2 separate regions of the Homo sapiens genome follow, and region 2 is linked to region 1. Evidence: fine-mapped expression QTL. A gene starts in region 1. The other region holds a variant in brackets. All regions are shown on one strand. Distances are from middle to middle. Region 1 holds the start of IL17RA (interleukin 17 receptor A). Region 2 overlaps IL17RA (interleukin 17 receptor A).

Evidence for each region. PIP is the estimated chance that this variant, and not a neighbour inherited with it, causes the effect.
Region 2: its variant is fine-mapped to the expression of IL17RA in whole blood (TOPMed, PIP 0.91).

Annotation. Positions count from the first base shown.
Region 1 is chr22:17,071,846-17,088,169 of GRCh38, forward strand. IL17RA (interleukin 17 receptor A) reads left to right here and starts at 13,155. Exons shown (of 13, transcript NM_014339.7): 1 at 13,155-13,384. The coding sequence starts at 13,247. RefSeq lists silencers at 3,268-3,327, 12,938-13,157, 13,178-13,297, 13,548-13,647, 13,688-13,937 and enhancers at 4,488-4,657, 12,215-12,384.
Region 2 is chr22:17,105,869-17,119,954 of GRCh38, forward strand. IL17RA (interleukin 17 receptor A) reads left to right here. Exons shown (of 13, transcript NM_014339.7): 11 at 1-86; 12 at 1,859-1,900; 13 at 2,439-9,825. The coding sequence ends at 3,952. TMEM121B (transmembrane protein 121B) reads right to left here. Exons shown (of 1, transcript NM_031890.4): 1 at 10,429-14,086. The coding sequence ends at 13,523. Among named protein-coding and RNA genes, the nearest start is that of TMEM121B, 8.4 kb to the right of the region's middle. RefSeq lists a silencer at 1-142 and enhancers at 912-1,131, 1,089-2,288. The variant C/T (reference allele first, on the strand shown) is at 3,841.

The DNA.
Region 1 (16,324 bases):
TTACCTGGCTTTTCTTTGGTGAGAGAGTTTTTATTACTGCTTCGATCTCGGTACTCATTATTGATTTGTTGAAGTTTTCTATTTCTTCACGGTTCAATCTTTTTTTTTTTTTGAGATGGAGTCTCGCTCTGTCACCCAGGCTGGAGTGCAGTGGTGTGACCTTGGCTCACTGCAACCTCCGCCTCCTGGGTTCAAATGATTCTCCTGCCTTAGCCACCCGAGTAGCTGGGATTACAGGTGCCCACTACCAAGCTTGGCTAATTTTTGTATTTTTAGTAGAGGTGGGGTTTCATGATGTTGGCCAGGCTGGTCTCTAACTCCTGAACTCAAGTGATCCACCCACTTTGGCCTCCCAGAGTGCTGAGATTACAGGCATAAGCCACTGTGCCCAGCTGTCTTCATGGTTCAATCTTGATGCATTGTATATGTCCGGAAATGTATGCATTTCTTCTAGGTTTTTTAGTTTGTTGGTGTATAGTTGTTTATGTAGTTTCTAATGATTCTTTGTACTTCTATTGTCTCAGTTATGTCTCTTTTTTCATTTCTGATTTTATGTATTTGAATTTTTGCTCTTTTTTTCTTAGTTTAGCTAAAGGTTTATTTTGTTTATCTTTTCAAAAAGCCAACTTTTTGTTTCATTGATTATTTGTAATTTCTTTAGTCTCAATTTCATTTAGTTCCCTGATCTTTATTATTTCTTTCCTCCTAATTCTGGCTTTGGTTTGCTCTTGCTTTTCTAGTGCCTTGAGGTGCATCATTAGGTTGTTTATATGAAGTCTTTCTACCTTTTTTTTTCTTGATTTCACAGTGTTTGGAATCTACTTTTTTCTTATAGGCATTTATTGCTATAAACATCCCTCTTGTTACTGCTTCTGCTGTATCCCATAGATTTTGGCTTGTTGTATTTCCATTTCCATTTGTTTCAACTTTTTAAAATTTCCTTCTTAATTTCTTTATTGACCTATTGATTGTTCAAGAGCATGTTGTTTTGTTTCCATGTGTTGTGTATTGTCCAAGGCTCTATAGTGACCTTCTTTATCTCTTTTTACAGTCTTTTATTTGTAGTCTATTTTATCTGATATAAGAATAACTACTCCTGCTCTTTGTTGGCTTCCAGTTGCATGGAATGTCTTTTGCTATCCCTTCACTTTCAGTCTTGGTGTGTCTTTATAGGTGAGATGGGTTTGTTGTAGGCAGCATATAGTTGGGTCTTGTTTCTTTATCCTGTCAGCCAACCCATGGCTTTTAATTGGAGAATTGAGTCCATTTACATGCAGGGTTATTATTGATATTATTACTACTGCCATTTTGTTGCTTGTTTTCTGATCGTTTTGTAACTCCTTGCTTCCTTTCTTTCTTTCTTCCTATCTTTCTTTAGTCCTGTCTTTCTTTGAGGTTAAGTGATATTCTCTGGTAGTATGTTTTAACTCATTGCTTTTATTTTTAATGAATCTATTTCAGGTTTGTGCATTGTGATTACCATGAGGCTTACCAAAAACATTTTATAGATATAACAGGTTATTTTAAAGAGATAACAGCTTAAAGAAAATAAAAATGAACACGGAAAAAAGAGTTTAACTTTACAATTTAACTCCATCCCCCACATTCTGACTTTATGTTGTCTCAATGTATGTGTATTTCTATAATGTCCATCTCCTAACAGATTGCTGTAGGTATTGTTGTTTTTGATAGATTTGTCTTTTGGGCTGCATACTAGTTATGAGTAGATTGCACATTGAAATTATAGTATTAGAGTATTCTGGGTTTGTTCATGTACTTAATTTTACCAGCAGGTTTCATACCTTTACATATTTTCTTTTTGCATGTTAGTGTTTTTTTTTTCTTTCTTTCTGATTGAAGAATTCTCCTTAGCACTTCTTGTAACACAGGTCTGGTGGTAGTGAACTCTCATCTTTTGTTTGTCCAGAAGAGACTTTATGTCCTCTCCATATTTGAAGGGACACTTTTCCAATACAGTATTCTTAAATGGCAGTTTTTTTCTTTCAGCACTTTGAAAATGCCATCCCATTCCCTTCTGATCTGTATAGTTCCAATTGAGAAATCTGTTGCCAGACAAATTGGAGCTTTTTTATATGTTATTTGCTTCTTTTCTCTTGCTGCTTTTAGAATCCTTTCTTTACCCTTGACCATTGAGCATTTCGTTATTATATGCCTTTTGGTAGTCTTATTTGGGTTGAACCTGTTTGGTGTTCTCTGATCTTCTTGTATGTGGCTATTTGTCTCTTTCTCAAGTTTGGAAAGTTTTTTGAGTGTCCGTGTTTGATTTTGAATAAGCTTTCCACCCTTTGCTCTTGCTCAACTCCCTTTTGAACACCAAGAATTCTTAGATTTGGTCTTTTGAGGTAATTTTCTATATTTAGGAGACAATTTTTATTGCATTTTATTCTTTTTTTGTTTTTGCTCCTCTGTGTATTTTTTAGAAGCCTGTCTTTGAGCTTGCTGGTTTTTTCCCTCTGCTTGATTCATTTCGCTGGTTGAGAGCCTCTAATGATTTTTTTTTTTTTTTTCAGAGACAGAGTCTCACTCTGTCGCCCAGGCTAGAGTGCAGTGGCATGATCTTGACTCACTGCAACCTCCGCCTCCTGGGTTCAAGTAATACGTCTGCCTCAGCCTCCCGAGTAGCTGGGACTACAGGCGCATGCCACCATGCCCAGCTCATTTTTTGTATTTTAGTAGAGACGGGGTTTCACCATGTTGCCCAAGCTGGTCTCGAACTCCTGAGCTCAGGCACCTTGGCCTCCCAAAGTGCTGGGATTACAGGTGTGAGCGACCACGACTGGCCATGAATTTTTTAGTTGAGTGAATTTATTTCTCAGCTCCAAGATTTCTGTTTGATTATTCAAAATTTCAATCTCTGTATTAAATTTCTCTTGTAAATTTCTGAATTACTTTTGTATGTTATCTTGGATATCACTGAGTTTTCTCAAAACAGATATTTTGAATTCTTGGTCAGAGGTTCACAGATTGCTGACTCATTAAGGTCAGTCACTGGTTCCTCACTTTGTCCATTTGGAGTCATGATTCCTTCTTTGCTATTGTTTCCTGTGATGTGAGTCTATGTCTTTGCATTAAAGGATTTGTTATTTATTTCAATCTTCTCTGTCTGGCTTGTTTCAGTTTTTATTTGATATGTTTGCTTGGGGTTTTTATTTTTAATTTACCTGTTGGTTTTATTTATTTATTTATTTATTTTATTTTTCTTTTTTTCCAGCTAGGTCACTGCCTCCTTTTTGACACTAGATGGTGGCATAAGCCCAGGTTTGCCTTGGTTCTGGAAAGCAATTAGTGCCACCCGGCCTGGCGCTGTGGCTCATGCCTGTAATCCTAGCACTTTGGGAGGCTGAGGTGGGCGGATCACGAGGTCAAGGGATCAAGACCATCCTGGCCCACATGGTGAAACCCTGTCTCTACTGAAAATACAAAAATTAGCTGGGCGTGGTGACACGCGCCTGTAGTCCCAGCTACTCGGCAGGCTGAGGCAGGGGAATCGCTTGAACCCGGGAGGCAGAGGTTGCAGTGAGCCAAGATCGTGCCACTGCACTCCAGCCTGGTGACAGGGTGAGACTCCATCTCAAAACAAAAGAGTGCCACCCATCAGGATAAGGGAGGTCTCAAAGGGGACATTTCAGTAGTGTGGGAAGGATGGTTAGGGGTTGTGCCCAGGGGACCTGTGGAACAAACCTACCACATGGTGCTGCTTAACAGCCACGCTGATTTGCTGTCTCCTTTGGCCAAATTAGAGCAGAGTGTCCAGGGCTGGGGATGGTGGTCCTGCCTCCCTACTCTGTCTCTGGCTGTCCTCTGGGATATTTCTTATTCCAGGCACACTTTCTTTCTGTGCCTTTCTGTGGGTTGAGTTTCTGTGGGTTGAGTCAGGGACTCAACCTTTCTGTGGGTTGCTTTCTGTGGGTTGAGTCAGGGACAGGTTTCCTGCCAGTGAACCCACGATGATGGAGAAGCTGGCTGGCCATCTCGATCTCACTTTTTCCAGTGAAGAATGCATGAGTCAGCGAGTTTTCTGCACGCTTGGTGTGGGGCAGATTTGAGGGAGGGGCATGATGGATATAGAAGTCTGAGTCTCAGCCAGGCACAGTGGCTCACACCTGTAATCTCAGCACTTTGGGAGGCCGAGGCAGGCAGATCACCTGAGGTAAGGAGTTCAAGACCAGCCTGGCCAACATGGTGAAATCTGTCTCTACTAAAAATACAAAAATTACCCACGCGTGGTGGCGCACACTTGTAACCCCAGCTACTCAGGAAGCTGAGGCAGGAGAATTGCTTGAACCCGGGAAGTACAGGTTGCAGTGAGCCACTGCACTCCAACCTGGGCAATAGAGCGAGACCCCGTCTTTAAAAAAAATTTTCTTTAAGTCTGATTCTCTTGACAATGTCTCAAAGTTTTTTTCATATGTGGCCCCAGGAACTCTCATCTTCATATTTGAGTTCTGGAACATTGCTGGTGATGATCTTGGTGCTATGTGTTTCTTTTCAGTTTTCTGTTGGGGAAGTAAAGCCAGCTTGCTTCCGCAGCACCATTTTAGAACCCCTAGTAAAATTTTCGATTGAGAAATATTCTGCAAATGTTTTTATATTTTACCTCCTTTTCAGTGATCACCATTCTCTAGCCATGTGATTGACAAGGACTTTCTCATAGTTCTATACCCTTCACCACATCATTCACTCTTCCTCCCGTAACATTATTTCTAGTCAGTCACCTACAACCCTCTCCTCTGTTTCTTCAAATCTCAATGTACCTTTTCTTTTCTTTTCTTTTCTTTTTTCTGAGACGGAATCTCACTCTGTTACCCAGGCTGGAGTGCAGTGGTGTGATCTTGGCTCACTGAAACCTATGCCTCCTGGGTTCAAATGATTCTCCCGCTTCAGCCTCCCGAGTAACTAGGATTACAGGCACCCGCCACCACGCCCGGCTAATTTTTTTGAGATGAAGTCTTGCTGGGTCACCCAGGCTGGAGTGCAGTGGCGCGTTCTCAGCTCACTGCAACTTCTGCATCCCAGGTTCAAGCAATTTTCCTGCCTCAGCCTCCCGACTAGCTGGGATTGCAAGCGCCCGCCACCATGCCACGCGCTCAGCTAATTTTTGTATTTTTAGTAGAGACGGAATTTCATCATGTTGGCCAGGCTGGTCTCAAACTCCTGACTTCCTGATCCGCCCACTTTGGCCTCCCAAAATGCTGGGATTACAGGCGTGAGCCACCATGCCTGGCCAATTTTTACATTTTTAGTAGAGACAGAGTTTCACCATGTTGGCCAGGCTGGTCTCGAACTCCTGACCTCAAGTGATCTGCCCACCTCAGCCTCCCAAAGTGCTGGGATTGCAGGTGTGAGTCACCACACCCCACCAATGTACCTTTTCTTTAAAATATAAATTTAATTGCTATTCCTGCATGTAATTATTCTCAGTCTGGCTTCATGCAACAGGAAGACCCCCTAGCCTGAGAGCTAAAAACTTCTAACTTCTTTACCAAGCACACCATCTGGCTCTCTTTATCCTGGGCTCTGCCACTGACTACCTGTGTGGCATGAGTCACAAAATTTCTCTATCAGAGCCTCAGTGTTGTAGTTTGGTTGTGTAGTGGTGGTGGTTTGGTTTAGTTTTGTTAATGCCAAAACTATTTCAAAAATCTGATGAGACTTATGAACTCTCTTTCCAGAGAAAAGCACACTCACACAAACATTTTTCAAATTATTTCCAAGTGTTTACAAACTTCCTAGAGCCTATCTATGGACTTCAGTTTAACAATCCTTGGACTGGCCTCCCATCCTTTTAATTAAATAGCTCTCTCTGGCTCTAACTCTAATTCCTCTTAGAAATAAAAATAGAAAAGAAACAATTTCTATCTCTGCTAAGAGCTCACCTCTCAGAAAAATGGCGCTGACATCTCTCAGCCACATTCTGAAAATCAGGATTCTGGAAAGTCCTGTGTTCTAAGATAAGTGGTCTAGGCAGGCCGGGCGCGGTGGCTCACGCCTGTAATCCCAGCACTGTGGGAGGCCGAGGCGGGTGGATCAGGAGGTCAGGAGATCGAGACCATCTTGGCTAACACTGTGAAACCCCATCTCTACTAAAAATACAAAAATTAGCCAGGCATGATGGCGTGCGCCTGTAGTCCCAGCTACTCAGGAGGCTGAGGCAGGAGAATTGGTGTGAACAAACTGAGGGCCATTACTTTAATAACTTATTACAACTTGTTAACAGTTTGATTTATTAGCTTTTTCAGGTGTTGTATAGATGCTTAGAAATATTTTTGTATTAAATTTGTAAGTCTAGCAGTCAGCATTTGAAACTTTTAAGAGAAACATGCACATAAAATTTGCGATGTGGTTTGAAATGTCTTAGGAAATGTAATGAATCAAGTTTGAAGTAGTGTTAAGTGTTTAAGGAAGATTTAGTCTCTTACATTTATGAGTTAATAGCACATGAATTAAAGAACAAGTAAAAGTGATTGTTCTTATTTTATACCAATATTACCAGATTAATAAATGGACTGGAGCTGGGCATGGTGGCTCATGCCTGTAATCCCAGTACTTTGGGAAGCTGAGGTGGGAGGATCACTTGAGCCCAGGAGTTTGAGGTCAGCCTGGGCAACATAGTGAGACCCTGTCTCTACAAAAAAAATATAAAATTAGCCAGGCATGGTGGTGCACACCTGGAGTTCCAGCTACTGTGGAGGCTGAGGCTAGAGGATCACTTGAGCCCAGGAGGTTGAGGCTGCAGTGAGTCGTGATTGTGCCACTACACTCCAGCCTGCATAACAGAGCTAGAACCTGTTTCAAATAAATAAGTAAGCAACTAAATAAATAAATAAACTAGCAAGCTTTGTAAGTTGAATTTAAAAGCTTGAAGACTGGATATGGTGGCTAGTGCCTGTAATCCCAGGTATCCAGGAGGCTGAGGCAAGAGGGTAACTTGAGGTCATAGTTTGAGATCAGCTGACCGGCCTGGGCAACATAGTGAGACACTGTCTCTAAAAAAAAAAAAAAAAAAAACAAAGGCCGGGTGCGGTGGCTCACGCCTGTAATCCCAGCACTTTGGGAGGCCGAGGTGGGTGAATCATGAGATAAGGAGTTCAAGACCAGCCTGGCCAACATGGTGAAGCCCCCTCTCTACTAAAAATACAAAAAATTAGCCAGGCGTGGTGGGGGGCACCTGAATCCCAGCTACTCGGGAGACTGAGGCAGGAGAATCGCTTGAACCTGGGAGGTGGAGGTTGCAGTGAGCCAAGATCACGCCAGTGCACTCCAGCCTGGGCGACAGAGTGAAACTCCATCTCAAAAAAATAATAATAATAAATAATGCTTGAGAAGAACTACAATTTAAGTGTTGTAACTCAATGTAAGAATAAAAATAAAAGTTGTCATAAAAAAAATTTCTGAGGCCAGGCGTGAGAGGATCTCTTGACCCCAGGGGTTTGAGGCCAGCCTGGGAAACACAGATATTACATATTACAAGTAATAAAAAAAAAATTAGGCATAGTGGCGCATACCTGTGGTCCCACATACTTGGGAGACTGAGGCAGAAGGATCACCTGAGCCCAGGAGGTTAAGACTGCAGTGAGCTGTGATGGAGCCACCGTACTCCAGCCTGGGTGACAGAGTGAGACTCTGTCTGGGGAAAAAAAAAAAAAAAGGAAAAAAATTCCGCCCACAAAAACCCCTCTTGAACTTAGTAAATCTCAGTTGACACGTTTATTCAACAGTTTATTCAAAACACGTTTATTGATCATCTCCTGTGAGACAGAGGCTGTTCTAAGCACTGGGAATATGGTTGTCTTAGTCTGTTTTCTGTTGCTATAAGAGAATACCATAGATTGCGTAATTTATAAAGAAAAAAAATGTTATTTAGCTCACAATTCTAGAGGCCAGGAAGTCTAAGAGCATGGCACCAGCATTTGGTGAGGGCCTCTTTGCTGTGTCAAAACACGGCAGAGGCGATCATAGGGAGAGAGGGTAAGAGTGTGCAGGTCAGCTCAGGTCTGTTACTCTTTTTTTTTTGAGACAGGATTTCACTCCCATCTCCCAGGCTGGAGTGCAGTGGCACAATGTCAGCAAACCACAACCTCTGCCTCCCTCCCAGGCTCAAGCCTCAGCCTCTCGAGCAGCTAGGACTACAGGCACGTCTGGCTAATTTTTGTATTTTGGGTAGAGACAGGTTTTCACCATGTTGCCCAGGCTGGTCTATGAACTCCTGAGCTCGAGTGATCTGCCTGCCTCGGCCTCCCAAAGTGCTGGGATTACAGGCATGAGCTACCGTGCCCTGCCTATCTTCCTCTTCATATAAAGACACCAGTCCCATTATGGAGGCCCCCACCTTGATGATCTCATTCAAATTACTTCCCAAAGGCCTCACCTCCAATCAACATATGAATTTGGGGATTAAGTTTGTAACATGTGAAATTTGGGGGATACATTCAAAGAATAGCAATGGTGAAAAATGATTTGCAGTCTCTTCTTTCACTGAGATTATATACTAGCAGAGGACACAGAGGAAAAGTCAAATAAACAACATCATTTCAGAGAATGGACACAGAAAGCTCAGTCAATCAGAGACTAGCTCCTAACCCCATCTTTCTCATGGCAAAGGATATTCTGTCCCCTCTCTCACTGTCCTGGAATGAAATCCGTGGCCATTTCCCTTTTCTCATAGCCAAAGACACCACCAAGTTCTCCAATCCCTGACTCTGATTCCTGACATCAATCTATTGCTCCTTGTATAATCAGTCAATGAATCAAAAAAAATTTTTTTGGATATCTACTATCTCCTCAGGATGAGGCTCTGTCAGGGGAAAAGTAAGAACCCAGAGAACAAGCAATAAGCAAAGCAGCCTAATGTTGACATGCGCTTGGCAAGTATTCACAGACCACCTCACACCCAGCCAAGCACTGCAGGTGAGAGCAACACAGGAGTGAGGAAGCCGGGGTACTTACCATCAGTGAGGACCAATCTTACAGATAGGGAAAAACTATATTTCATCCAGTTGAAGACACCCATTTTCTACATTTTAAAATTCCTAAATTAGGCTTTATCTTTCAATGATTTTGGATCATTGGATGAAATACAGTAACAACAGCACAAAGCAGCATTGTGCCCTGAGAGGTGTGCAGAGCCTATAGCAATTAGAACAGTGGTCCAAGGTCAGGCTACACATTAGATGTATCTGGGAAACTCAAAAATACTTATGCCCAGACCCCATCGCAGACCAACAGAATCAGTGTGGAAGGGTGTGGCTGTACACTGGTATTTCAAAAAGCACCTCATGGGATTCTAATACGTAGGCAGAGTTGAGAACCAGGATAGCAATTTCAAATGAGAGTACACATTACCCTGAGGTTACATGAAGACTTTCCAAGGGGCACGCCTTGGAAAGTTTAGGGCACACATCAGTAAACTAGGGCCTATGGCCCAAATCTGTTCTACTGCCTGTTTTTGTACCCTCCGGGGAGCTAAGTTGGTTTTTACAGTTTCAAATGGTCAGGGGAAAAAATCAAAAGGGAAATAATATGTTTGGACAAATGAAAATTATATGAAATTTAAATGTAAGTGTCCATAAATAAAGTTTTATTAGAACACAGACACACTCCTTTGTTTACATATTGTCAATGGCTTCTACAAGGGCAGAGTTGAATAGTTGGGACAGAACTATATGGCTGGCAAAGCCTGAAGTATTTACTATCTGATACTTTCCAGAAAAAAAAAACTTGCTGGCCCTGGCTTGAAGGGAATAGATTTGAAGGGAATGGACCTCCAGAATCTCAACATCCCCATGTCCTCTTCCAGACACTTGCCTGCCAGGAAAGGTACCAGCTGTGAAGATGTCAGGTGTGGGTGGAGGCTCCCTTCCTTCCCCACACTTTTGTTTCCTACTTGTCCTTCTCCCACTTTCAAAAGAAAGGTAGGCCTCTCATCAGTCCTGGGTATTAAGTTTCTAACATGTGAAATTTGGGGGACACATTTTAGAATGTGTAAAAAAGCCCCTGGGGGCCCAGAGCAGTGGCTCACCCCTGTAATCCCAGCACTTTAGGAGGTTGAGGAGGGCAGATCACAAGGTCAGGAGTTCGAGACCAGCCTGGCCAACATGGTGAAACCCCATCTCTACTAAACATACAAAAATTAGCTGGGCGTGGTGGCATGTGCCTGTAATCCCAGCTATTCAGGAGGCTGAGGCAGGAGAATTGCTTGAACCTGGGAGGCGGAGGTTGCCACTACACTCCAGCCTGGGCGACAGAGCAAGACTCCATCTCAGAAAAAAAATAAATAAAATAAAATAAAATTTAAAAAGCCCCTGGGCACTAGACATAGCAACAGTACCAGATACCATTGTGTAATAGGACTCTGATCACAGGATAGGTATATACACATATCGATATACAGAGATAGATAGATAGATAGATAGATAGACATCTATTTTTTTGCAAGTGAGGTAGGTTCCAAATATTGCCTTACTAAAATTGAAGGAGGACCCAATCAAGTTGTCAGTTGCCAAATCAAAAATATTTGACTGGGCACAGTGGTGCAAACCTGTAATCCCAGCTACTTGGGAGGCTGAGATGAGAGGACCTCTTGAGCCCTGGAGTTTGAGTCTAGCCTGGGCCGTTTAGTGAGACCCTATTTAAAAAAAAAAAAAGGTGACAAGATGGCTATGTGATCTTTGCATATGACTGAAAACGGGTTCAAAGAATTGATGAGACAAATATAATTATTTATGTAAGCAATTTTTTAAGGCTTACATCTAAAATATTTTTAGCCTGGGGTGGTAGCTCGTGCCTGTAATCCTAGTACTTTGGGAAGCTGAGGCAGGAGGATGACTTGAGCCCAGGAATTCAAGACCAGCCTGGGTAACATAGTGAGACCCTGTCTCAATGTTTTAAAAAGAAGAAAAATGGTGGCTCACGCCTGTAATCCTAGCACTTTGGGAGGCCGAGGCGGGCGGATCATGAGGTCAGGAGATCAAGACCATCCTGGCTAACACGGTGAAACCCCGTCTCTACTAAAAATACAAAAAATTAGCCGGGCGTGGTGGCAGGTGCCTGTAGTCCCAGCTACTCGGGAGGCTGAGGCAGGAGAATGGACTGAACCCGGGAGGCGGAGCTTGCAGTGAGCCGAGATCACGCCACTGCACTCCGGCCTGGATGACAGAGCAAGACTCCATCTCAAAAAGAAAAAAAAAAAAAGAAGAAAAATAAAATATTTCTTAAATGCTGAATGTTGCTTTGTTCTATGAATAAGCAATATTTGTTCACAGATACATCAACTAATTAGGAATAAAATGAATTTCAAGTAATTCATGTTTAATTACTTATTAACATGTATTATATTTACATTATTTTTTATCAATTATGTACTAATAATGGCAATGATGAAATGAAGATCTCAGTGTCTTGCACTGGGCAGAGGCCTTTCTCATTCTCTGCCACTTGGGCCCCAGCATGGCTTCCCTAAGAGCTAGGAGCTCAGAGGGAGGGGCTGGGCAAGACAGAAGTCAGGATCTTTTTGTAACTTAATCTTGTAAGTGACATCCCATCATTTTTGTCTTCTTCTATTCATATTCTATTGTTAGAACCAAGCCTCTGGGTCCATCCCACACTCCGCGAGGAGGATTCAGAAGGTCGTGACTCCCAGGGGGTGGGATCCTAGAACACATCTTAGAAGCTGCCTACGACAACCGCTGATTTTTAAGTAACAGTTACATCCTCTACATCTATTTAGACTTAGGATGGAGAATTTTAGATGTCATCTTTAAAATGCATGAGAGGATGCAGTTTTCCAAAATTCTTTTAGAAACAGACAATTTGAAGGCCACTGAGCTTCAGGCTTCATTCAGCTGGGTCGTGTCTGCGGGCGGGGCTCATAGAGATGTCGCTGGGGGTCAGCGGGTGCTTCGGGCAGCGAAAAAACCCACCTCTCGAGGGCAGTGGAAAATACAGGGAAAAGCCACTTGAGTGTAGACTCCGTGCGTGTCAAGGCCAGGCAGAGGCGCACTTGATAGGCAAGGAAAAGCGGACGGTGGTGGTCTTGGGAGGAAGAGAGGAGAGGCGAATGGGCAGGAGCGTGTGGATGCACTAGGGCAGGACGGGCTCGAAGCAGGAACCTAGGATAGAGGCAGCGCGGGCCGGCTTGGGAGGGTCCTCCAGGGTCCGGAGAGGAGAGGACGCAGGCTGCACGCGTGCTAAGAAGGAGACTCATGAAATGTGTAATTCGCTGGCGACAGCTTCCGCGGCCGTGGAGTGAGCCTCTGGGAAGTAACGACTCTCTTAGGTGCGGCTGGGACACAGTCTCACAGACCAGGTAAGTTGCCTGCCCTCCAGGAACTCAAGTGTCCCCGAGTCCGAGCCAGGAGGCTGGAAGTGACTGCTGTCCCATCCTCCCTGGAGCCCGGAGCTGTCCTTGTCTTGAGAAAGAGAAAGCAAAGCCAAGGAAAGCAGAGCGAGCAGAACCAGGCAAAGGGGTGGGGACAATAAAATGGGATATGGCCCGCGCTTCCATCTACTCAGGAGGCAGAGGCAGGAGGATCGCTTGAGCCCGGGAGGCCGAAGCTGCAGTGAGCTGCGGTTGCACCACTGCACTCCAGCCTGGGAGACAGAGGGAGACCCTGTCTAAAAATAAAGTAAAATAAAAAACAAAAATAAAAGGGACAGAGACTAAGAAAACGGACTTCCTGAAATCCCAAGTTGGGATTTCACGTCCAGTGACCCACAAGAGAAGCAAGAAGTCTGAACAGGGCCAAGAATCAAGTGAGTGGGGGCGGAGGATTAAAATCGACAGTTGCTGCGGCACGGCCAGGGTGGAGGGTGCATGTGGGGCAGGCGAGGCTCCAGCTGGAGTTGACGCTAGCCCGACGCGGGTGCAACTGGAGGCGCGACGGGCCAGGCCCAGGAGCAGCGGGAGGAGCGCACCTGGGGCGCGCGGGCGGAGGAGGGCCGGGGAGGGACGCCGGAAGGACTGGGTAGGGACGCCCGGAGGACTGAGCGTAGGGCCGAGAGGAGGGGCGCAAGGAGGAACGGGGGGAGGGCCCTGTCTCACCCTAAACCCCTCCCCGTCCCAGACTAAACTCCTCCCCTCGGCCCGGCCCGCCCCTGGGCCCGGGCTGGAAGCCGGAAGCGAGCAAAGTGGAGCCGACTCGAACTCCACCGCGGAAAAGAAAGCCTCAGAACGTTCGTTCGCTGCGTCCCCAGCCGGGGCCGAGCCCTCCGCGACGCCAGCCGGGCCATGGGGGCCGCACGCAGCCCGCCGTCCGCTGTCCCGGGGCCCCTGCTGGGGCTGCTCCTGCTGCTCCTGGGCGTGCTGGCCCCGGGTGGCGCCTCCCTGCGACTCCTGGACCACCGGGCGCTGGTCTGCTCCCAGCCGGTGAGACTCGACGTGGGGAGCGGTAGCCGCCAGGATGCTGCGGACGCGGGGCAAGGTCGCGGAGGGCCGGACGGTCGGGACTACGCGCCCGGGCTGGGGAGGCAGGAAGTCCGCGCCGCGGGCTTAGAGGGGCTCAGAGCCTTGGGCACAGATATCGCGGCGCCTGGGGAGGACCCTCGGAGCGGTGGGAGTTGCGGTGTGGAATACGGGGGGGGTGGGTGGCACATCGCGCGGCGCGTGTTGCACAACCTGGCCCGCCGTCGTGACTGGAGGCGGGAGTGACACCTCCGCCCGGGCCGCGGAGTTCGGGGAAGGAGGGCGCGGCGCTGGGCCAGGCCGGAGGGGCGGCCAGGGCTGATAGAAAGGGGCTGTGGAGAAGGGGCCCGGGGAGGAGCCAGGACGGGTCTGGACCCAGCTCCACGCCTTGCGCCCCTCACGTACCCCGGCGGGGCACGGTCGGCCCTCGGGAGGCCCATCGCGCCCTCGGGAGCTTCCCTCAAGCCGTGCCCTTCATGCCGCCGACGGAGCCGGGCGAGCCCACGTCGTCCGTGCGGAAGGTGGAGTCCCTCACCCGCGGCCCCCAGAGGGACCCCGCTGTCGTAGAGCCACGCGGGGGCCGGAGCGCTGAGACGCGGCACCATGTTTCGGGGAGAGCTCTGCCGAGGGCGGCTGAGGGCCACCTCCCCAGAGGCGCGAAGCCCTGAGGATGGGCAGATGGTTCTTAAGACGGCGCCCTTCCCGCCACTCCCACCCCCGACTACCACCACCTGGGTCTGGGAACCCGGTGAGAGCGCAGTCGGAGGGTCGAACGTTTGTAGCTGTCAAGTCGTAGCCCCGCTGCGCCCACAGGAAGTGACCCACCCGCCTGCCGGGTAGTGGCCTTTCTGTGAGCCAGGACCATCTTAAGGAAAAAAACAAAAAAAGAGCAAAACGCCGTGCCCCTCCACAATATACTCTCCTCTTCCCCGCATCCCCGAGGGGATCTTTCCTCCCCTCCACCTCCACCTCCACCTCCACCGCTGACCCCAAGGAATAATGCTCAGTATCTGAGTCAGAGGATGTAAAACAAAGGGATATTTCTCCTTATGTAGTTTTATGGAGGATTTACCGAAAGAAGGTGGAGGGTGAGTGACTATGTCGCAGAAAAAAAAAAAAAGATGTTTTTATCGTGAATGATGTTGAGAAATGTCCTGTGACTTCCACTATTGGGCAAAGCAGGTCCCTCTGCCCTGCTAGTCCCTCCTGCAGGCTGTGTATGAAGCGTTCTGATATGGAGGGTTGGTGCGCCTGGGTTGACAGCCATTGGTCAGGTGCCTGCAGAGTACAGGGCGCCATACTGGGAACTGGAACTATAAATAAATACTCTGGGGACCCTAATATCCAGAGACCTAACCCATCTACGGGAGGAACAAGGCTTGAAGTTAGGGAACTGTCTAGCAAAGCTGCTTGCACAACTGCTAAGTGTACGGAATTCCAGGAAAAAGAAAAATTGCTTCCAGTTGGGGTGTCCTTCATGGAAAAGGCATTTGGGCAGCCCTGTGGGGGTAGCAGGAGCATTCCAGGTGGTGGAAAGGGCCTGAGCCAAGGTCCTTAAGTGGGACAGGGTACGGTGTGTGGCCGGAATGGAGGGTCTGTGTAATAGGACAGTGAGAAAAGATGCCAGAAGCGGGGATGGGACTCTGCTGTGCGTGGCGTGGGAGCCAAGCTCTGACTTTCACTGCACAGTGAAGCAACTGTAAGTCAGGAGCAGAAGCACGGCCTGGCTCCAGGGAGGGCTGAAGAGAGACACTTGCTGTTCATATTTGTCTGCAGTCTCTCGTTCTCTTCCTTCCTCTCTCTCTCTTCTGTATACACCTGCCTCACAGACAGCTCTTCTCCAGAGATAGACAGCTCTGGGCTCCATTGACTAGTTCTTTTAAAAAGAAAGAAAACACATCCTTCAAATTTCTGTCCCTCACTGGTGTTTTAGTGGATGCAATGTGGTATAGTGAGGGGAGGGAAGGCCACAGAGGTGGCCAGAGGACCTGGATTTGCAGGCAGCATCGCACTTACTGTCTCTGCAGTCGGGCTTTGAGGCTGCCTGGGCCTGGGTTCCCTCATTTCCACAAAGGCAGGACTGGGTGAGCCTTCTCAAAGTAAGTCCATGCCACCTTCCAGAATGTAAGTGTCTGTCCAAAGCCCAGTTCGATTTAGCCTTCCATAACTATCCTCAGACAGGGAGGAGGCTTCTGCACACCTGGCCTGTTCCTAGCTCAGTGCTGGAGCACAGGATGCGGGGGCTATTTGATACATATGTGTTGACTGAACAAAAGAATGCATGAATGAAGGAAAGAACGGTCAGCTCTGCTTGGAAGGTAGTGGCAAGCTGAGACCAACCATAGCAATGGTTCCAGATGCTTGGGGTTAGCACCTCAAAACCCAGATGACTGATTTCCCCACAGAAATCATTACACGAGAAACCATCAATAATTGCATTTCCCTGGGAGTTTCCTTTTGGTTAGCCGTTCTCGCTGCCTAGGCTTCATGCAGGTTTCCCATGACCGCCAGCCTGGAGGAATGCCCATAGGAAAGACAGCAGCAACTTAAGAGTTGGTCAGGGTAAATGTTAACACGTAATTTCATAGACAGGATGTGTATTTCATTACAGAGTCTTTTTTCCTGAGCGTTTGCGGTTTTGACTTGTGGTTGTAGAACAGCTGCTCAGTTTAACCCCTTTATCTTTTGCTTGCCAGAAGCCACTTTCATCATGCCACTCTTCCAGAGGCTACAAAGTTGTGTTCTTTGTGCCAGGCACTGTGCCGGTGGCTCACAAGTATTCCTTCATCCCATACTCAACGACAGCTTACAAGGTTGGCAGGATGAACCTGCTTTTGAGAGGCTGGGTTATTGGCCCAAGGTCGCACAGCTAATGAGTGCTAAGGTGAGATTGAAAGCAGGCTG
Region 2 (14,086 bases), 33 kb after region 1:
GGTGTACTGGTTCATCACGGGCATCTCCATCCTGCTGGTGGGCTCCGTCATCCTGCTCATCGTCTGCATGACCTGGAGGCTAGCTGGTAAGCGCTGGGGCTCTGGCTGTCCTGGAGTCAGGCTCTAATACCAGCACCACCACTCACTACCAAGGCAAATCGCTTTATTCTCAGAGCCTCAGCTTCTTGCTTGAGAACCACGTCATAAAGCTGTTGTAAGGACTGAGTGAAATAAGACACATGAATTCTTAGCACAGAACCTGGCATGTGCTATTTGCACAGTATCTGTTAGCCACGATTATATTTGTTGTTATCAAATGTAGTATTATTAAAATCAATAGTTTGGAAGGAGCCGGAGTAAAGTTTCCCTGTGTCAGGAATGATCATCCAGGCAGGTGGAGCAGCCTGAACAACCCCATCCTGCAGCCGCCAGACGTGGACGCCTGGGGTCAGGGAGAATAGTGAGGGTCAGCATCGGGTGATAGAGAAGGCTCCGGCTGCCCTGAGCCACAGGGGTGGACCCCAGCCCCACCTCATTAGCCTTGTAGTCACAGGCCAGTTACTTAATACACCATGGATTCACTTTTCTGTAAAATGTACTGATAATGCCTCCCTCTAAGGGTGTGACGAAGGTTAAATGAGTAGCTGAGGAAGGTGCTTGCTGGTGGGGATTAGTACATACCAGTGTCTTCTCCCACCTGCAGCCCTCTGCTGGCCAAGTCCTAAGCCGGGAGAACACAGGCCTTCCGGTTGGGGCTTCAGCCCTTGCCTGCCCCACCATGACCCTAGGCTGCTCCTTCCGTCATCTGGGAAGCTGTTTCCACCCTTCCCTAGGCTCGTCAGGATTAGGTGTTAATCATTATTAATTATTATGTGGTAGAAAGAAAACCAGCCAGGCATGGGAGGACCTATGGGAGGTTCCAATAACATTCAGTAGCATCTCGGCCAGTGCTCCACAGGCGGTGCAGCTCTCTAAAGGTTTGGGGCTGGGCGGCGGCGGCGCTTTTGGTTTCCTTTCTGCTGTTGCGCTTCTGTTTTCCGAAGTGTCCTGCACCACAGGGTGAAGGCAAGAGGAGCCTCGCTGTTATTTGGCTGTCTTGTGACAGTTCTGGGGAAGAGCTGAAAGGGTTAGGATTGAGATTAAGGTTCTAAGTCGTTTGCTCAGTCATCTGTGGATCTCAATCCTCCCAGCTGTCACTAAGGAGTTAACCCCCGCAGAGCAGTTTTTTCATCACATCTCTGAGGGGAACAATTGCTTAAGTATGTGGGTTCCCCTTCCTCACCTCAAAAATACCAGGAGGAAATGTTGCAAGCAGCCTGGTGGGGCTGCTTCTGGAAAGAAGTGTGGTAAGATGCATGTCTTCTGTAAAGACACTTCTGGGGAAGAGCTTTTCCTCATGTGGAGTCAGTTTGGGGTGGCCAAATTTCAGGGAGACAGGGCAGACCAGGACCGTAATGAGGAACCAGAATGGACACCACCCCCTGCCCCCCGGCACTGGGGGTCCCAGCTGGATCAGTGCTACAAAATAACTGTGATCCCAATTGATTATGTACAACGTGCCAGGCACGTCACATACACACACTCATTTAATACCCATTAAACAAGAGCAAATACAGACCCACCTCACAGAGGAAGAAGCTGCATTTCAGAGGCACTAGTAACTGCTCCAGGTCATAGTGCTCGTAGTGGCAGACCCAGGACTCATGCCTGTGCGACCACCTAGCACGGCCTCGCTGCTCAGTCTCGGGGCTGCCCCCTTACCCTTCACCCTTTGTCAGGGATGGGGCAGACACCCTGTGAGCTGGTTTCTATTTCTCTTCCCAAAGAACCACTCCAGTGTATTTCTTTTCCTTTCCAGGGCCTGGAAGTGAAAAATACAGTGATGACACCAAATACACCGGTCAGTATTTCCTGGTTTGCATGTTTGCTTATTTTTAAAGCAGTGGAGGGTTCTCCTGGGATAAGTGCGTGGGTCGCCTCCTGTGCTCTAACTCCCAAGTCCCTTCAGGAGACCCCACCTTAGAAACCCCCTTCCAGTACCCCACTCAGAAGGGCCCCCAATAACAAGGCCTGGGTGCCATTTTTTGAATCACTCAGACAAGGAAAGAAAGGTAAGTATTTTGTGAACAGAGGTCCTCCCTGGAGCAGACCAACAGAGCTTGGTGCCTCTTTTTCTTTTCTTAATTAAAGTATAGGCTAAAGACCAGCTAGGAACGTTGAGAGATTCTTTTTCCCACAAGGCAGCAGACTGATTTTTTTCAGGCAGCCAAAGGTGGAATAGTAACATCTGGGTTTTTCCAACAGGCCTCAGTTGGGTTTCTCAGCTTAGGGAGGGAGCCAAGCTCTGTGTCCTGGTCCAGGCCCCTCCTGGGCTGGCAGGCACAGAGCTGCCCTGGGCCCTGGGGTGAGGGTCAGCATGTGTGGTCTTGTTTCCTTAGATGGCCTGCCTGCGGCTGACCTGATCCCCCCACCGCTGAAGCCCAGGAAGGTCTGGATCATCTACTCAGCCGACCACCCCCTCTACGTGGACGTGGTCCTGAAATTCGCCCAGTTCCTGCTCACCGCCTGCGGCACGGAAGTGGCCCTGGACCTGCTGGAAGAGCAGGCCATCTCGGAGGCAGGAGTCATGACCTGGGTGGGCCGTCAGAAGCAGGAGATGGTGGAGAGCAACTCTAAGATCATCGTCCTGTGCTCCCGCGGCACGCGCGCCAAGTGGCAGGCGCTCCTGGGCCGGGGGGCGCCTGTGCGGCTGCGCTGCGACCACGGAAAGCCCGTGGGGGACCTGTTCACTGCAGCCATGAACATGATCCTCCCGGACTTCAAGAGGCCAGCCTGCTTCGGCACCTACGTAGTCTGCTACTTCAGCGAGGTCAGCTGTGACGGCGACGTCCCCGACCTGTTCGGCGCGGCGCCGCGGTACCCGCTCATGGACAGGTTCGAGGAGGTGTACTTCCGCATCCAGGACCTGGAGATGTTCCAGCCGGGCCGCATGCACCGCGTAGGGGAGCTGTCGGGGGACAACTACCTGCGGAGCCCGGGCGGCAGGCAGCTCCGCGCCGCCCTGGACAGGTTCCGGGACTGGCAGGTCCGCTGTCCCGACTGGTTCGAATGTGAGAACCTCTACTCAGCAGATGACCAGGATGCCCCGTCCCTGGACGAAGAGGTGTTTGAGGAGCCACTGCTGCCTCCGGGAACCGGCATCGTGAAGCGGGCGCCCCTGGTGCGCGAGCCTGGCTCCCAGGCCTGCCTGGCCATAGACCCGCTGGTCGGGGAGGAAGGAGGAGCAGCAGTGGCAAAGCTGGAACCTCACCTGCAGCCCCGGGGTCAGCCAGCGCCGCAGCCCCTCCACACCCTGGTGCTCGCCGCAGAGGAGGGGGCCCTGGTGGCCGCGGTGGAGCCTGGGCCCCTGGCTGACGGTGCCGCAGTCCGGCTGGCACTGGCGGGGGAGGGCGAGGCCTGCCCGCTGCTGGGCAGCCCGGGCGCTGGGCGAAATAGCGTCCTCTTCCTCCCCGTGGACCCCGAGGACTCGCCCCTTGGCAGCAGCACCCCCATGGCGTCTCCTGACCTCCTTCCAGAGGACGTGAGGGAGCACCTCGAAGGCTTGATGCTCTCGCTCTTCGAGCAGAGTCTGAGCTGCCAGGCCCAGGGGGGCTGCAGTAGACCCGCCATGGTCCTCACAGACCCACACACGCCCTACGAGGAGGAGCAGCGGCAGTCAGTGCAGTCTGACCAGGGCTACATCTCCAGGAGCTCCCCGCAGCCCCCCGAGGGACTCACGGAAATGGAGGAAGAGGAGGAAGAGGAGCAGGACCCAGGGAAGCCGGCCCTGCCACTCTCTCC[C/T]GAGGACCTGGAGAGCCTGAGGAGCCTCCAGCGGCAGCTGCTTTTCCGCCAGCTGCAGAAGAACTCGGGCTGGGACACGATGGGGTCAGAGTCAGAGGGGCCCAGTGCATGAGGGCGGCTCCCCAGGGACCGCCCAGATCCCAGCTTTGAGAGAGGAGTGTGTGTGCACGTATTCATCTGTGTGTACATGTCTGCATGTGTATATGTTCGTGTGTGAAATGTAGGCTTTAAAATGTAAATGTCTGGATTTTAATCCCAGGCATCCCTCCTAACTTTTCTTTGTGCAGCGGTCTGGTTATCGTCTATCCCCAGGGGAATCCACACAGCCCGCTCCCAGGAGCTAATGGTAGAGCGTCCTTGAGGCTCCATTATTCGTTCATTCAGCATTTATTGTGCACCTACTATGTGGCGGGCATTTGGGATACCAAGATAAATTGCATGCGGCATGGCCCCAGCCATGAAGGAACTTAACCGCTAGTGCCGAGGACACGTTAAACGAACAGGATGGGCCGGGCACGGTGGCTCACGCCTGTAATCCCAGCACACTGGGAGGCCGAGGCAGGTGGATCACTCTGAGGTCAGGAGTTTGAGCCAGCCTGGCCAACATGGTGAAACCCCATCTCCACTAAAAATAGAAAAATTAGCCGGGCATGGTGACACATGCCTGTAGTCCTAGCTACTTGGGAGGCTGAGGCAGGAGAATTGCTTGAATCTGGGAGGCAGAGGTTGCAGTGAGCCGAGATTGTGCCATTGCACTGCAGCCTGGATGACAGAGCGAGACTCTATCTCAAAAAAAAAAAAAAAAAAAGATGGTCACGCGGGATGTAAACGCTGAATGGGCCAGGTGCAGTGGCTCATGCTTGTAATCCCAGCACTTTGGGAAGGCGAGGCAGGTGGATTGCTTGAGCTCAGGAGTTCAAGACCAGCCTGGGCGACATAGTGAGACCTCATCTCTACCTAAATTTTTTTTTAGTCAGTCATGGTGGCACATGCCTGTAGTCCCAGCTACTCGGGAGGCTGATGCCAGATGATCACTTGAGCCCAGGAGGTAGAGGCTGCAGTGAGCTATAATGGTACCATTGCAATCCAGCCTGGGCAGCAGAGTGAGACCCTGTCTCAAAAAAAATAAAAAAGTAGAAAGATGGAGTGGAAGCCTGCCCAGGGTTGTGAGCATGCACGGGAAAGGCACCCAGGTCAGGGGGGATCCCCGAGGAGATGCCTGAGCTGAAGGATTGTGGTTGGGGAAAGCGTAGTCCCAGCAAGGAAGCAGTTTGTGGGTAAGTGCTGGGAGGTGAGTGGAGTGAGCTTGTCAGGGAGCTGCTGGTGGAGCCTGGAGGGGAAGGAGGGAGGCAGTGAGAGAGATCGGGGTGGGGGGTGGGGGGATGTCGCCAGAGCTCAGGGGTGGGGACAGCCTTGTGCGCATCAGTCCTGAGGCCTGGGGCACCTTTCGTCTGATGAGCCTCTGCATGGAGAGAGGCTGAGGGCTAAACACAGCTGGATGTCACCTGAGTTCATTTATAGGAAGAGAGAAATGTCGAGGTGAAACGTAAAAGCATCTGGCAGGAAGGTGAGTCTGAAGCCCTGCACCCGCGTTCCGACTATCAGTGGGGAGCTGTTAGCACGTAGGATTCTTCAGAGCAGCTGGGCTGGAGCTCCCCTGAGCTCAGGAAGCCCCAGGGTGCAAGGGCAAGGAAATGAGGGGTGGTGGGTCAGTGAAGATCTGGGCAGACCTTGTGTGGGGAAGGGGTGCTGCTGTGACTTCAGGGTCTGAGGTCCAAAGACAGCATTTGAAAAGAGGCTCTGAAGCCAGTGTTTGAAGAATTTGTTCCTGAAGTACCTCCTGGGGGTAGGCTAGAGGCTTCTGGCTTCAGGGTCCTGAAGAACACATTGAGGTGCCGTCTGACACTGGAATAGGGTGCCCTTCATTCCTATGCCTGAGTCCTTAACTATATTTCCAACCTCCAGTGAGGAGGAGAAGATTCGGAAATGTGACAGGAGAGCAAACAGGACAGTTTGCATGTGTGTGTGCGCACACATACATGTGCGTGAAAGATTATCAATAAAAGTGCATAAATTTGTTGATCTGGTAAGAGTTTCTAGCAGGAAGGTCGAGCCACTTACTGTAGGTCAAGAAGTTGCTAGTTGCGGAGTTTTTTCTTGCAGTTAGACTTTACCTAGTGGTAGCAGGGCCACCAAAGCTCTGTGTCCCAGATGGTGTATGGCCCATAATCCACCCAACAGCAGCAAAGGACCAGGCAAAGGAGAACAGGAGCAGAAGCCTCCCAGCCACTAGCCTTTTGGGCTCAGTCTCTCCAATAATCCTGGAGAGGGGCTTCGTTGGGTCTGGACACCTACCATGCATTCTGTGACCTTTCCCTAGCTTCCAATAAATAACTGTTTGACGCCCAGAGTACAGGATACCACAATGCACTCTTCCTGCGTAGAGCACATGTTCCCATCTGCTCCCATTCCTCAGGAACCTTGAATTCTAGCTCTGCTGGCCTTTGAGCCCATGCCAGTAAATGTCCTGATGGGCATTGCCTACTATCTCCAGGGCAGCTGCCTTTGTCCTCCTAACAGCTTTATTGGAGTACAGTTCACTTACCATACAATCCACAATTGACCCTGCACAATTTGATGCCGGTTTAGTATAGTCACAGTTCAGCAGCCATCAGCACAGTCAGTCTTAGAGTTTACTACCCCCAAAAGAAATCCAGCCCCCCTTAGTCACCACCCCAACCTCCCCATCCCTAGGCACCCCTAGGCTACTTTGATCTCTGTAGACTTGCCTCTTCTGGACATGACATAGAGAAAGGAGTCATAAATTCTCCAAGGTGTCTGTTTCTTCTTTAATGTCATTCCCTGTTTCTCCTCACATTCCCTCCCCATTTCCTGGGCCCAGTCTCACACTGGTCCTTGCTTACCCTAAATGCTATTAATTCCATCACTCTGAGTATGGTGTTTGCTGTCCGCTGAATGCCAAGAGCTTCAAGAGTGTGTGTAAATAAAGCCACACCTTTATTTTTGTATTATTCTGAACCATGGCTAATAAATTGTTTCACCAAGAAATGTCTCTCTAAGAACAGGTGCCCTCCACGCTGTGCCCCTCCCACCTCTTCAGCTCGTCTCCTGAGTGTGCAGAGGTGGTTCCGGTTGGGAAAGAAGCAGCGGAGCATCTAACCATGCCTGTGTCCAGGCCGATTATGCACGCAGCCACCAACAAGCTCCCAACTCCCGCGTAGAGTTTCATGACTTTTTCCTGCCTACTATCTTGATCCTAGTTTTTTTTTTGTTTTTTTTTTTTTTAAGGAATAATTACTTTGATTCAAAACCAGTTTCTCTTTTCTGCATAGGAAGGTCCTTGAAGGTGTTTAGGGTCTAAAAAGGGTGGTGTTCGGTCTCTGAAACATCCATTCAGCAGTTTGAGCTGGGATCTCTGAATGCAAGGGTATGATGGATATACTTCTTTCTTGCTTTTGTTGTGTTTTGGTTTTTTGTTTGTTTTTAAGTCAGGGTCTCTCTGTCACCAGGCTGTATTACAGTGGTGCAATCATGGCTCACTGCAGCCTCGACCTCCCAGGCTCAAGCCATCTTTCCACCTCAGCCTGCCAGTGGCTAGAACTACAGGCGTGCACCACTGTGCCCGGCTAATTTGTGTGTATATATTTTGTAGAAATGGGGTTTCACCATGTTGTCCAGGCTGGTCACGAACTCCTGGGCTCAAGCCATCTGCCCGCCTCATCCTCCCAAAGTGCTGGGATTATAGGCCTGAGCCCACCGTGCCTGGCCTTTCCTGTTTATCTTTGAAAATTAAATAGGGCATAAGAGAGAAGAAGATGTACTTACAATGCAGTGGGTGGTTTTAACTCTATAGCCTTTGGGCTCTGTGGTTGGTGCTCCCCTTCCTAAATAAATGAGGTGTATGCAGGGCCCTCTTCTGCCTTAGCGCCCTGCCAGCTGGGACTCCAGCAAGGCCCGGGGCACCTGAGGACAGAGTGAGATGGAGGGCCGCTGCTCCAGCAGCCGGGCCTGCATCCCACAAGTCAACTGTGTCGGACAGAGGATCCTTACAAAGAAGAGGCAGCAGGGTTGGGGGCTGGCCAGCTGCTCGTCCGCCCTAGGTAGCTTGCTCATCTGTAAAGTGGGTGGGGCAGGAGTTCCCACCTCATGGGGTCCTGGCAAGCCTGCAGTATCCCCGAGTGGCACCAGCCTGCTTCTGGGGCAGAGCAGTTTGTGCCCCCTGAGGTACCACTGATCCTCTTTCCCTGCTATTAGGTATTGCTCTCTTCCTCCGGTGTTTGCCTTTTCAGATTATAGAAGTAATATGTGTTCCCATATTTGGCGTCTCTCAGGAGCTCAGGAAGTACTTGGCTGAGTGAACATGTCCATTGTGGAAAAATGGCAACAATATGGATTCCATGGGTATATTTTATAGAAGAATATGAAGAAAAGCAGCTACCCCTAAACCCATTGCACAAGCTGTTCATGTTAATTCTGTACCCGACGCTTTCCCCACGGGGCCTCCCCTCACTCTGAAATGGCATCCAGGTCCATCTTGCCCTCCACCTCTGCATGGCTCTCCATGCCCCATCGCCTCTCCCAGATCCTAGCACTGGGTCCACACTCTCGCCCTGTCCATTTAGGTTGATGAAAGCAGGCAGTCACCCGGGTGGGCCAGTCTTGCCTGTGGGAGGAACATGCAGTCTCCTGTCTCATGGTTTGAAGTGTGCCAGGAAGCCTGGCCCAGCCCACCTCCCCCTGGAGTCCTTCCCAGGAGGAATAACCCCTTAGGTCATTGACTATAAGATGAGTTCGCTCACTGGATCCTTCCTCTCTGATGAGACAGGAAGAAGGTACACAGTGACCAGGTAGGAGGAGGAGAGGGAGTAGAAAGGAGGGATGCGGGTGGCTGGTCCCTGCATTTGCCTGCTTCCCTGCACGGGTGTCCCACTGGCCGCCTCTGCTCACCAGTGTCATGGGATTCTCTCAGAAGATGAAAACAGCCCCTGCTTTTTTGCTAGAATGGCTGAGCTTTCATGGAAAGGAAGCTGGACCCAAGCAACAGCCGACTACCGAAGGTTGCCTGGAGCAGTGCAGATGTGGGAGGAAGAAGGGCCTTGGTGCACACTGGCTTTTCTTCCTGACTGCAATGTGGCATTGTGCCAGCTACCTCCTCTTTCTCGGCCTCAGGAAAATGGAGAGAAAGCAGCCCTGAAGGTGGCTGTGACGAGGGAAGGGGCAGAGGGCCTGACAGTCAACCACGCGCTATATTTTCCTGTTCTTCCTTAGGGCAAGAACTGCATGGCCAGACTCAGGCAAGGCCTAGGTGTGGGCTGGGCATTGCCTACACGTGAAGAGATCACTCCGCGTCCCTACTGCACCTGTCACAAAGTGCCTTCTGATATGCCTGGCAAACCAAAATCGGTGAGCGCCAGCTTGCTTCCCTAGAAGACATTTCTAAATATTCATAACATGCTTGCTCAAATCAATCACCTTATTTTACATCCGCTCCAGGGAGAAATGAAGACATGGTCCTACGTTGTTCTGTAATTATTTTCTATGTAAATTTTGTTCCTTGTTACAATTATATATGTCTTAGGGGAAAGGACCATTTCACATGTGTCACCTCATGTGATTCTCACCACAGCCCTGTGATTGCTCCTGTTTTATAAATAATGACATAGTTCCAGTTGATGGCCAAAGCCACAGCTAACGAGAGGCAGAGAGAGCTCAGGCTCCCAGGAGCTTCCACTCTCAGACCTTGCCTCCCGGGCTGCCCTGAGTGAAACGCCTGCTTAGCATTTGGCACAGCCAGAAGCAGCAAGCTAGGGTCACAACACAGAGAGGGGCTGTGTAATACTGGCTGCCTCTGTGCTAAGAAAAAAAAAAAATCACTGTGTGTTTGTTTATTTTGGTGCAGGCCCAGTGTTCTTGCTTAGACTTAATACTACCCTTCATGTTAAAATAAAACCAAACAAAAACCCATGGCCTTGTTCTTCTTATTCATACGTAAGAATTTGTGCTTCTGGCTGGGGCAAGAGTGATAGAGGAGGGCACAGTATTTAAAAATTAGTTTCTCAAGATGTTCCCCCTTTGGAAAGCTACTCTTTTAGAAAGAAATGGGAAGCCGGGCGTGGTGGCACACTTCTGTAGTCCCAGCTACTTGGGAGGCTGAGGCAGGAGGATTGTTTGAGCCCAGGAGGTTGAGGCTGCAGTGAACTATGATGGCGCCACTGCACTCCAGCCCAGGTGACAGAGTGAGACCCTGTCTCAAAAACAAAGAAAAAGAAAGAAGGAAGGAAAGAAAAGTGAGAGAGAGCCGAGGGTGATGAGAAAAAATCGTTCTCAGGCTGAGTCCATTAGAGCTGAGCTGGCTGTGCCAACAAAGCATGTCAAGACACTCACCAGCTCCAGGCCACAGCTTCACTGCCTCCCTGAAAAACATGCCAACTGCCTAGAAGGGCCAAGGTGTACCCATAATGTTAACACAAACTTATAAAATAATGGCGAATGTCACAGTGACATTTAAGAATTTTGTAAGGAAACCAGGACAGAAAAGATCTTAAAACAAACCACACAGGAAGCTTGTCACAAGTCTCAAGTTTTTTATTTTCAGAACAGAGTCTGGTTTTATTTTTAAAAAGAGAAGGAAAAAAGTGATAAATGCTAGTGAGGTGCCACTTCCCTCCTTCTTCCAGGCTCTAACCGCCAGCTAGCTCTCTTTCACAAAACCCACGGATGCAGAATCAGGACATGTTAAAATGGAACAGTCTTTAGAGAGGGTCTAGTCTTTTTAAAATAAGTAAGGATTTGGGGACTAACAGAGAGGAAGCCCCTGACTTGCTGAATTGTTAGGAGCAGGCGGTTCTCGAGATTCTGAGCCCAGGATCCTTTTCTGTGAACCATGCACGTGCTGGCACTGGCCTCAGGAGACAGTGCCCTGCCTTGGCTGTCAGGTCCACGGAGAAATCTCAGGTTTGCCCCTTCACTAGGGATGCCCTAGAAAGCAAGGGCAAAGGAAGCTTTAGGGGTCATCGTGACTGGGGCAGGGGAAGTGAGTGCAAGGACTCAAGAAAAACACAGCAGAGGAAGGGACTGACCCTCTGAGCACACAGTGGTTGACCCACATGTGTAAAAGAGGGTGACTGGGGCTGAACTGGGGGCCTGATATCTGCCAGAATTGGCCAAGTTGCCATCAGCTTCTTGACATATCCAGGGAAGTGGCAGCTCATTGGAACTTATCACAGCCTCCCACCAAAAACCTAACAAACAGTACAGAGATTTTACAGTCAGGGAGGCCCAGCAGGAGATGGCCATCCAAACAATAGAAGGGGGGCAGATCAGGGGGCCAGCCAGCGGCTGGCCATGGCTCAGACACAATGTCCTTTCACAGTCACTGAGATTAGGTAGCAGAGAAACACAGCAAAGCTGGAGAGAGGACATGGGAACAGCGAGCAGCTGTTGGTACCCACCCAGGGCCCAGGCCCCAGAACCTTGAGTACAATCAAAGGGAGAGGAGAGGAGTCAGTGGGGGCAGGGGAAGAAGGCAGAAAAAAATACCAATTAAGTGTGAAATCCAGCCAGCTATTGGGCCACATAGGGTGAGGGACTGGAAGCACAGATTGTGCATGGAGTGTAAACATTTTCCCCCGCTGTTCCCTGCTCTGAGAGCATGAGGAGGCTCAAGAGAACTCTGGTCAAGCCTTCTGCCCCTCTTATGTCTGTCTACAAGGGTGTCTTCTGCTCCAAGCCCCCAAAACAGTTGTAAGAGGGGGCTTCAAGTGGGAGGCGGGGGCTTGGCCTGGGTGCTGAGTTAACGGCCAGTGACTTGGCACTTCTGACCCTCCCTGTGCACTCTGCAGCTGTGCCAGGCCCTGCCCCACACCCAGCCCAGGCACCCAAGCCCTCCCTCCGGCCTTCTCTGCTGGGGCTTCACACACCCAGTACAGAGCAGGGAATGTTCTGCAAGTGCAGCCTGGCTGGCTTCTCTCCCAGCCACCTTTACAGGGAGCATCAGGACCAGGGCTTTCAAGAGCCACAAACTCAAAAGAATGTGAGAGCTGAAATTACCTTCAACCTTAGAGATCACTCATCTAACTTCTACTTTTTTAATGTGAGAAAACAGGCCCAGGAAATAAAAATATGTCACTCAAAGCCAATGAGTGACAGAATCAGAACTAGAATCCACATCTTCTGGTAACTCGTCTAGAGTTTGTTACACTACATAAAACTTCCCAAACGTAAGAAGGGAGAAGGGGAAACAAAAATTCTTCAAGTTTCACCCCCACCACATCCTGTTGAGGGTGGAGGGAAGTGAGTATTTCCTGGCCTTGTTAGCTGCTGTCCTCCTGCACCCTTAAAATATGTAAAAATACTTATCCTGCCTCAAAGACTGCAAGAGTGACATTCCACACCGACTGTAAGTGCACAGTCCCCGGATGTCTCTTGTCATCACCCTCAATGAGAGGAAGAGGGAAAGTTCTGCAGCCTGCCTTGGCCCTAGTGAGACTCTTAACCAGACCAGAGGTGGGAGGTCACCACCTCACTTTCTGATCTACACTTCCTAGAGGAAGGACAGGTGGGGAATGGGGCTTCCTACTCCCTTGGGCCCATGGGAGGCCCAACTTCACATCCATCCAGGAAACCCACCAAAGCTATTACTCTAAGCCCAGATCCGACCCAGTCGGCACCAAACCACAGGAAGGATAAGAGTTCTAGGTGCAGAGGGAGGAACAGAGAGAGGCCAAGCCAATGGCTGATACTCCGCAGACCCTGTAATAACACTGGCACCAAACCCCAGCTGGAGCCAGTGGCCATGGCAAATGCAACTTCTGAGTATTTTGTCTTCATTTTTTGCAAGCAGCATCAGTGCATGATGCAACAAAAGTTGAAAGCACGGAGGTAGAAATGCTCACTCACCCAAGAAAGGGTGCAGTTTGGTCCTTAGAGAATGGATCCCCTCCTCTCCCTGAGCTGAGAAGAGAGGAGCAGTATTGAGGAAGATCCTGGGTGAGATTCTCCCTTCAAGGGGAGTACCTGGGCAGCTCCCAGGGGCCCAGCTCTTCCTGGGAATTCATGGTCACAAATCCAGGCAGAAAAGAGGAGGGTGGTGATAAGTATGGTGTAGGGGGCAGGGCCTCCCCAGATCTCCTACCCATTGCAAAGGGCCACAGGGTGGACACGAGAAAACAACACTACACACACAGAGACATACACTTTGTATCTATCACCTGGAAGAAATCCAAGAGACACATCAGTGGAAAGTGGGTTCTGGGTCAATTTCAAGGCATGGGACAATGGCCACTAACCACAGCCTAAAAGAGGCTGGCACTTCTAAGCAAGGGAGAAGGTCCAAGGCCCAGCACCCCTCTCCTCCTAATGGATGGGAATTAGAGTGGAGGTGGGCAAAGCAAGAAGCAGAGGTACCAGCCCCTTGGAGGTCAGGATTGGGGTAGGATAGGAGAAGAGAGGAGAGGGTAAGTGCACCTACCTCCCTCACCGTTAACTGCTGGTCTCCCTCCAAGCCGTCCTCACCCCAGGGTGCAGAAGAACACCCTGGCCCTTAGCCCTGAAAAGGGTTACCTCTTCCAAATAGACCCTGATCAAATCTAGGTGACAGAAGGTAGAAGACAAGGGGGTTGGGGACTCTCAACCCAAAAACAAGGACCCGTGCCCTTCACCCTCAATTCTGAGAGGCCACAGCCAGGGTGTTGACATAGCCATGAGCACCCCCCTCGTTCTCCGAGATGCAGTGGCCCAGCTGGGAGCCTCCCTGAGGTGGTGGCGGAGGTGGTGGAGGGGCGGAGGGCGGAGCACCGTAGCCCCCTCTGGCCCGACTCGGGGAGGCCCGATTGCCCCGGTCCCAGCAGCCCTCCAGGGCCTCCAGGCCCCGGCAGCCGAGGAAGAAGAGGTTCTTGAGCATGAAGATGGAGAGGGGCTGCTGGTAGCTGACCACCAGGAGGCAGCGCAGCGCCAGCAAGGGCACGTCCACCAGGCAGCCGCCCAGCAGGCGCAGAAGGCGGCTGCAGCTGCCAGGCCCGGAGGCCTGGCCCCAGGATGCAGCCGCTGCGGCCGCGGCGTTGAGCTCGTAGAGCCAGAGCACCGGCGAGGCGAGGGTGAGGAAGTAGACGGCGATAAGCAGGTAGCGCAGGTGCGCGGGCAGCGGCACGCGGCCCTCCAGCATCAGCTCCACCAGCGTGAAGCTGTCGAGCAGGTCCAAGCACGTGCCCAGGAAGCATCCGGCCGC